Linked DNA regions of Homo sapiens: region 1 is linked to region 2. Evidence: fine-mapped expression QTL. A gene starts in region 2. The other region holds a variant in brackets. All regions are shown on one strand. Distances are from middle to middle.

Region 1 (4,531 bases), 430 kb before region 2:
GATTGCAGTTGATTATTCTCTGGCTGTCTTAAGTAGTTATAGTCTTTGCATTTTAGTAATGGGAAATAGTTTTCTAGATAAAGCTTCTTAACTCTAGGTGGCAGAACTCTTTAGCCTTATCATCAGTACATTATTAGTCAAGTTACCTGACTTAGAGCCACTTGTCGTGGTTAATGTAAGAATTGCATTTTAGCACTATTTGTCATCTGAAAGAGATATCTGGGTTTTAAGAGCTCTCTCTTAAACTGCTTTAATCTTGTTTATCTGTGAGATGTCTGGTAATGTTAGCAGAATATATTGACAGTTCTTTATAGTTGCAAAGGAATTTTTGGTTAAGTTGACTTATTCATTAGGCAGTTTACCCTTGTCTTAATATTTTGGATAAGTGAGAGTTTATTCTAGTGGAATGTTTCAAATTCTTTTTTGACAAGTGTTTTTAGTTGTCTTTTATTTTGAGTTGCAATCTTAAATGTACCAAGATATTATGCTACGGTATAATTACTCTATATTATTATTATTATCCTAAATCTTCATTGTCTACAGAAGAAAACAATGATTTAAAAATGAATCCAACCAATCCAGTATAGACCAATCGTATATAGATGCTACAATCTAAATGAAATATAAGCAAATGAAATATATCCATGTATCAAAGGTTAATATGCCATGATCTTGCATGATTTACTTCAAGATTATAAGAATGGTTTAATATCAGGAAGTCTGTTCACATAATTTATTATATTAACACATGAAGCAGAAAAAAAAATCCTAGATGCTGAAAGGGCATGTTCTCCCTAACAGAAACTTTTAAGTCAGCTAGAAATGGAAGTTTATGATGAAAACCATTTATTAAAAACACACAAAAAACAAAGGCAAAACAATAAGAAACATCATTTAAGCCATATATGTTAAGATAAAGAATATTGCAGAGAAGTTCACCATTGATGTTGTACATTGTTTTGGGATTTTAGGAAATGCAATAAGAAAATGAAATAATTGAATGTAAATATTGGGAAAAGTATAAAATTATCTCTTTGTGCGAATGATATGATTGTACACCTAGAAAACCCTAGTAAAAAACTACTAGGATTAATAAGAGAATTTAGTAAGATAACTAAATACAAGATAAATATACAAAAGTGAATGGCCATTCTCTGCCATAAAAATAGCCTGTTAGAATGGAAATGGGGAAAAATGTGTACCTTTATGACAGCAACATAAATTATAAAACACTAAGGAAGAGATTTAATAACAAAGATATAAGAAGAAATTATATTATTGAAAGATGAAAGCAAAATCTGAACAAATCCATGCATTCAGCAAACATTCGTTAAATGCCTTCTGTGTGTCAGACACTGTTCTAGAGGCTGGGAACATCTAACAGGACATACAGAGTCCTGCTTTCATGGTGCTCACATACTTCTGGAAGAGTCAAACAGTAAAGAAATACATAAATAATAATATCTGCTAGAGCTTAGTGCTACAAAAATGAAATGATAGAATGAATGACATTACTCTGAATGGTCAGGAAAAGACTCTGAAGAGATGATATTTAAGCTCAGACGGGTAATAGCTAGCCACATGAAAATCTGATGGAAAACTCTCCAAGGCACAGTTAGTCCAAAGCTTCCAAGGTGGGAATGAACTCAGGAGGAGCAAAAAGGAAGGCTGTAAAACTGCTTTAATCAAGAGTATGCTATTGGCATAGAAATAGAAAAATAGATCTGTGGAACAGAATAGAATGCTCAGATGATCTAGTGTACAGATTTTATTAAATAGTGCTTTCACAACTGTATCTTACTGGAAGAAAATAATGTTGGACTCAGCATGCTAAATGCAAAAATAAATTTTACTTAAATGAAAATTTAAAATTTTAGAAGAAAAATGTAGGAGTATGTATATGTAAATAATGGGATGGGGAGATCTTTTACTATGATAGGATACCTAGAAGGTGTATAGTTGTCCTCAGTATCCAGTGGTAGGGGGATTGGTTCCAAGACCCCCAAGGATACCAAAATTTGAGGACGCTCAAGTCCCTTATACAAACTGTGTGTTATTTGTATCTAACCTTCACATAGACTCTAACATACTTTAAGTCATCACTAGATTACTTA[T/C]AACATCTAATACAGTATAAATGCTCTGTAAATAGTTGTACTGTATTTTTTAATTTGTATTTTTTATTATATTGCTATTTTTAGTTTTTAAAATTTAACATTTTAATTTTTTTCAGAGACAGAGTCTCACTCTGTTGCCCAGGCCAGAGTGCAGTGGTGCCATCATAGCTCACTGTAACCTTGAACTCCTGGGCTCAAGGGATCCTCCCACCTCAGCTTCCTGAGTAGCTAGGACTACTGGTGTGTGCCACTGTGCCTGGCATATTTTTGTTTTGTTTTGTTTTGCTTTTTCAAGAGGCAAGGCCTTTGCACCTGGCGTTTAACAAATTTTTCAATTATATATATTTTTAGAGACGGAGGTCTTGCTATGTTGTCTGGGCTGGACTCAAACTCCTGGACTTCTGCCTCTGCCTCTTGAGTAGCTAGCTGGGACTACATCAGCTGCAGGTGATATGTGTCCATCACCACACCTTGCAATAAATAAATAAATAATTTTACTTAATGAAGAAAATGTATATATAAATTTTTTGATGGGGTGTTGCCCAGGCTGGAGTGTAGTGGCGCAATCTCAGCTCACTGCAACCTCTACCTCCTGGGTTCAAGTGATTCTCCTGTCTCAGCCTCCCGAGTAGCTGAGATTAAAGGTGCCTGCCACTGTGCCTGGCTAATTTTTGTATTTTTAGTAGAGACAGGGTTTCACTATGTTGGCCAGGCTGGTCTCGAACTCCTGACCTTAAGTCATCCACCCACTCTGCCTCCCAAAGTGCTGGGATTACTTGCATGAGCCAGTGTGCCCGGCCTAAAAAATATTTTCAGTGTGCAGTTGATTGAATGTGCAGATGCAGAACCCATTGATATGGAGGGCTGAGTGTCTGAAATAAGCATATTTAAACTAAAGCATAGTGAAAATAAAAAATTTTATATGGTAAGATATAAATAATATCAAAAGAAAAATAGTAGATTGGGAAAAATAACATCTTTCAAATGCATATATCAGACGTAAAGGGTTATTATCTATAATTAAAACTCTTATAAATTGATGTATTGGATGAAAATAGAAAAACTGGCAAAATATTTAATAGGCAATTTAGAAAAGAATAAATCCCAAATGGTTAGTAAACATACACAAATTTCATAATCTCTTTAGGGTCAAGGACATGCAAATTAAAGTAACCATCAGATACTACATTTCACCCATCCCATTGAAAATTATTGAAAATTATTTTTTAAGTGATAATACCTAGTGTTTGAAGGGGTGTATGCACAGGATAATACCTAGTGTTCGAAGGGGTGAACACACCTGGGTTCCTAGTGGAAAATACGAATTTTTGTAGTGATTTTGGAAAAACGATTCTTAACAATATATTTTAAGATTAAAATATATCACTCATTTTTTAATTTAACAAACATTCCTAGGCATACAGCTCATAGAAATAAGCACCAATACTTAGGAAACATGTATAAGGATGAACATTACAGCATTATTTGAAGTGGCAAAAACTGGGAACAAAATGTGAATGTTCTTGAATGGGGGAACTGTTACGTAACCATCCATATCATAGACTATAATTTAAGCATTTAAAAGAATGTGTTGGCTGGGCATGGTGGCTCATGCCTATAAATACCCAGAACTTTGGGAGGCCGAGCGGGGAGATCTTTTGAGCCCAAGGGTTCGAGACCAGCCTGGGCAACGTAAGTAAAATTTGTCTACAAATAGTCTACAAAATAAAAAAAATTAGCTGAGCATGGTGGTGCATGCCTGTAGTCCCAGCTATGTGGAAGGATCACTTGAGGCTGGGAGGTTGAGCCTGCAGTGAGTCATGATCATGCCACTGCACTTCACCCTGGGCTACAGAGCAAGACCCTGTCTCAAAAATAAAATAACGTGTTAGATCTTGCTAACTGACTTAAAGGGACTTTCTTGATATATTGTTAAGGGAGAAGAGTAATATACAGAGAGATGTCTATAATATACTATTTTGGTAAAATAATGTTGAAAAACTTAAACTTCTCCCTATACCTATATAGGAAATAGAAATGTATGTGTATTTGTATATGAGTATAGAAAAAGGCCTAGAAGAAGACATAGAAGGTTGTTAATTGAAGTAGAAGTAGAGGCAAGATGAAAAAATATTTTTAAAATGTGTCCACAGTAAAATAACTACATGTAATATTATTCCTTTTAACAAAAATATGTATCTTTGTATGAATTTTAAAAAGAATGAAAAAAATGATCATCAACATTTTAATGGTTATTTTAGAGTGATGATATTTCAAGTTATTCCTTATATTTTTCATTGTCATTTGAACTTTTTACAATGATTAGGGTAGGAAAAAGCAAGCTACTTTTATCATGAAAATTAAGAAAGCTAAATGGTAGTACTTTTTTCCCCTTCATTTTGCAGTTGTGCTATATT
Region 2 (4,000 bases):
TTGTAAACAAACACTGCCATTACAAGGTGAAGAGTGCTGTAACTGAGTTCGGTTCCCTGGACTCAAGGGCGGGAAGTGGTAACCTCAGCTTCCCTATCTGTAGACTGGGAGCATCAAATGAGATGACAACAGAGAGCCTGTATAAAGCTCAAAGCACACAACACTGCTGTTGTGAGCAAGGAGTAATGGAACAGAGGAGGGGCGTCCACCTGCCTCCTGGGACAGGGTCTGGGCGGCAACAGGGCGGGCCCGCTCGCTCCCACAGGGGGCGGTGGTGCTGGGGACCTTCCCACAGGTGCCGACCCCCAGCTGCGCCGCCGGTAACCGACAGGCCAAGCCAGCCGCCTCCGCCCCCGCTCGCCGCACCACGGCGGAAGTGGCAGCCTGAGCGGTTGGCGGGTGTCGGAAGGGGAGGGCGGGGGGAGACCGTGCGCAGCGGCCTATGGCCGTGAAGTGGCGGGACCGCCGGGGGTCTCACCTGAAGCAGGGAGGGTCCTCCAACACCAGCACGCGGCAAGAGAAAGATGGCTGCCTCAGCCGAGACAGAGAAAGACGACGGCGGCGGCGGCGGCGGCGGGAGCAGATCCACGTGATACAGCCGACCCCGCCTCTCCCTCTCCGGGGCAGCCTATCCCGGGAGCGAACATCTGAACTCCAACGCCCCGCCTGCTTTGCGCATCCCTCTTAGTGCTAGTGGCGGCAGGTGCAGGTGGCCGCGCGGCATCCTGGGGCTTGCAGTCTCCCGAGCGTTCTGTTGTGTCCCTGCCTACAATTTTAGGGAACCTAATAAAAGGGTGGTCGGTATGTTTTTATTTGGGTGTGTACTTTTGTTAGGTCGCTTTTTCGCTATGCATTAAGTACGGACTTTAGGACTCAACTAGTACCAGGAAGAAAAAGACCGGACATTTTCACCTGTTTGTTATACAGCGAAGGGGAAAAATTGGGAAGAAATCCTCAAGCTACAAGAAAAATAACCAGAAGCTTTACACTTTAGCCTGCAGTGACTTATATCCTGGTGTCCTAAGTCCACCTAAGTCAGTTTTGCAATAAGAGGTCCCAAGTTTGGTTTTCTTGGAGCTTGCATCAGTTGGTTGCATCATCCCTGAGTAGAAGATTTGCGGTTGCAAGGAAAAATAAGGTACAGAGCTTCTCCAGCGGGAAAGTGCATGTCTGCACGGCACGAGCCCACGCACCGCAGAACAGGCTTGCCAGGTCTCCTCAGAGACCCTCGCAGGAACCTAACAATGAAATCCAGTTGTCCAGTCTTGATTTGTGGAGGGGTAAGGAGAATCCGAGGCCAGTGGGCAATCCGCCCACTGTTGGGAGCGACTGACCTCACGAATCAATAATTTGCTTTTGACTAGGAAGTGCAGCGGTTCTTGGGGGGAGGGGCTGGACTGGGTGGCGGACGCGAGGAGCAACGGTTCTCCCGAACCTCTCCCCCGCCCCTACTATCTTGGCCTACATTTTCCCGCTCCGTCCCGGGACCTGGACACCCAGAATCCACGAAAAGCAACTCGCGCTCGAGAACAGCTCTCGTACCCTTCTACGTGATCTGCACCTTTAAGCTCACTCCATCCCAAACCGGACCCCGGAGGCACCACCCACATCCGTCTAACATCACTTCCTTCAGAGTTTGAAAAAAAAAAATCTGGGAAGTAGAGGTGTTGTGCTGAGCGGCGCTCGGCGAACTGTGTGGACCGTCTGCTGGGACTCCGGCCCTGCGTCCGCTCAGCCCCGTGGCCCCGCGCACCTACTGCCATGGAGACGCGGCCTCGTCTCGGGGCCACCTGTTTGCTGGGCTTCAGTTTCCTGCTCCTCGTCATCTCTTCTGATGGACATAATGGGCTTGGAAAGGGTCAGACCGCGTTCTTATCTTCTCTTTACTGATCTTTACTATACTGATCCCAGTATAATCTCTTCTTGCCCTAGCACCGTTCCCCTCCCATTCTAACTCTTAGGCCACTCCAGATTTCTTTTTATCTTCCCCAACCGCTCCTGGAGTTTGAAGATTTCTTGGGGTAGAGAGTAGCGGGTCTGGGGAATGGAGAAGTTGTACTTGAGGCCTCTCTAAATTATTGGATTGGGGGGAAGGAATGGCCCGTAAATTAAGGAAAGCATGTTAAGAGCCCAGCATAGTGCCTAGCACTTGGGAGGTCCTGAGGAACGGTCACCTTCCCACCTGGGAGAAATAGAGCCGTTGGGGACCTGCATATGCAGAGGACCCTGTTCTGGGTCTGAAGATTTCTCTCGTTACTTCTTCCGCGAAGAGCTAGGTTACTGCCACTTGCTTGCCTTTGGGAAACAGCACCTGCATCCCAGGTAGCTGTATCTAGTGCATAAGAAGAGCCAAGCGAATGGTAGAAGGTCTGCTGTTTAAGGGTCCCCAACAATTGTCCTTGCTGTGGTTCAGCGAAGTTTTTTTGTAAGTGAGCGATCAGTGGTTATGAATGGAGGTTAGGAGGTGTGGCCCCCTACTCCATCCATTACCTACATCTCCATTCTAAGTTTTAACACCTCTCTCCTCATCAGCCCTTACTTAGTTGAAAGTTGGACTGACAGTCTGTGAACTCAGAGTTTATGCTTTTCTAAGTAGATGAATTGTAGCATGGATCCCAACCCCTCTTCCTTTTTTTTTTTTCACTGACCTTACTGTATGGAATGATTCTGCTGCAATCCTTCTGTTTTTGTTTTCTCTTATCCTCTCTATTTTCACATCTATTGGTGAGTAATAAGATTGGGTGGGCATTCATTTTGCCTGAATGCAATCATTCCTTCATTCCGTAAATAATTTTTGATCACCTCCTATATTTCAGGCACTGTCCTAGGCACTAGGGATATAGCTGTAAACAGGACAGACAAGGTTCCTACTCTGGTGGAGCTTATATTCATGTCAGAGAGACAGAGTAGACTCATGAACAAATTAATAAGACAGTTTCAACTAGGAACAAGTGCTGGGAAAACAATAAGACTGTGATGGAATAGGAAGTAGAAAGGCTGGGGAGGTTGGTGGAGCTGGCATCACTTGAATTATGAAGGTCAGGAGAAGCTTTTTGGAGAAGGTGATATGTGGGTTTCCATCTCAGTGATGAAACTGCATGACAAATCCTGTTAGGCCAGAATGTTTTAAATACTGACAATCCCATTTTAAAACAGACTACCGTTTTTTTTTGTTGTTGTTTTGTTTTGTTTTTTAGACAGAGTCTCACACTGTTGCTCGGGCTGGAGTCCAGTGGCATGATCTTGGCTCACTGCAACCTCCGCCTCCTGGGTTCAAGCGATTCTCCTGCCTTAGCCTCCCGAGTAGCTGGGATTACAGGTGCCTGCCACCACGTCTGGCTAATTTTTTGTATTTTTAGTAGAGACGGGGTTTCACTATGTTGGCAAGGCTGGTCTCAAACTCCTGACCTCATGATCTGCCCGCCTCGGCCTCCCAAAGTGCTGGGATTACAGGCATGAGCCACTGCGCCCAGCCAGCTACTGTATATTTAAAGTTGTAAGTACTGAGAGTAACAGAAGAGTAGAGTGTTGGGTACGTGGGTTTAGATCTGAGTTTTTTCTTTGCTGTTTTTTCTGTTTGTTTGTTTGCTTTTGTTTTTGAGACGGAGTCTCACTCTGCCAGGCTGGAGTGGAGTGGTGCAATCTCGGCTTACTGCAACTTCTGCCTCCCGGGTTCAAATGATTCTCCTGCCTCAGCCTCCCAAGTAGCTGGGACTACAGGCATGTGCCACTATGCCCAGCTAATTTTTTTTTTTTTTGTATTTTTTTGTATTTTTAGTAGAGATGGAGTTTCACCATGTTGGCCAGGCTGATCTCAAACTCCTGACCTCAGGTAATCCTCCCTCCTTGGCCTCCCAAAGTATTGGGATTATAGGCGGGAGCCACTGCGCCAGGCCTAGATCTGAGTTTTAATTTGTTCTGCCACTCACTAGCTGAGTAGCCTTGGGCAAGTTTCTTAACTCTCAAAGCCTCCGTTCCTCATCTGCAAAATGGGCATCAT

Which allele goes with the higher level. Alleles are on the strand shown, and positions count from the first base shown. SD is a standard deviation of normalised expression in the study named.
For the expression in tibial artery of the gene that starts at base 1,667 in region 2, allele T in region 1 goes with a higher level than allele C (small effect, 0.32 SD a copy in GTEx).

The links. PIP is the estimated chance that this variant, and not a neighbour inherited with it, causes the effect.
Region 1: its variant is the best candidate, but not a certain one, in a credible set for the expression of TXNDC12 in tibial artery (GTEx, PIP 0.60).

The regions. Positions count from the first base shown.
Region 1 is chr1:52,481,912-52,486,442 of GRCh38, reverse strand. TUT4 (terminal uridylyl transferase 4) reads left to right here. Exons shown (of 30, transcript NM_001009881.3): 10 at 4,520-4,531. Among named protein-coding and RNA genes, the nearest start is that of TUT4, 69 kb to the left of the region's middle. The variant T/C (reference allele first, on the strand shown) is at 2,115.
Region 2 is chr1:52,052,858-52,056,857 of GRCh38, reverse strand. TXNDC12 (thioredoxin domain containing 12) reads left to right here and starts at 1,667. Exons shown (of 7, transcript NM_015913.4): 1 at 1,667-1,858. The coding sequence starts at 1,762. It overlaps BTF3L4 (basic transcription factor 3 like 4), which reads right to left and starts at 563. Exons shown (of 6, transcript NM_152265.5): 1 at 479-563. RefSeq lists enhancers at 1-359, 360-1,073 and silencers at 139-378, 1,239-1,643.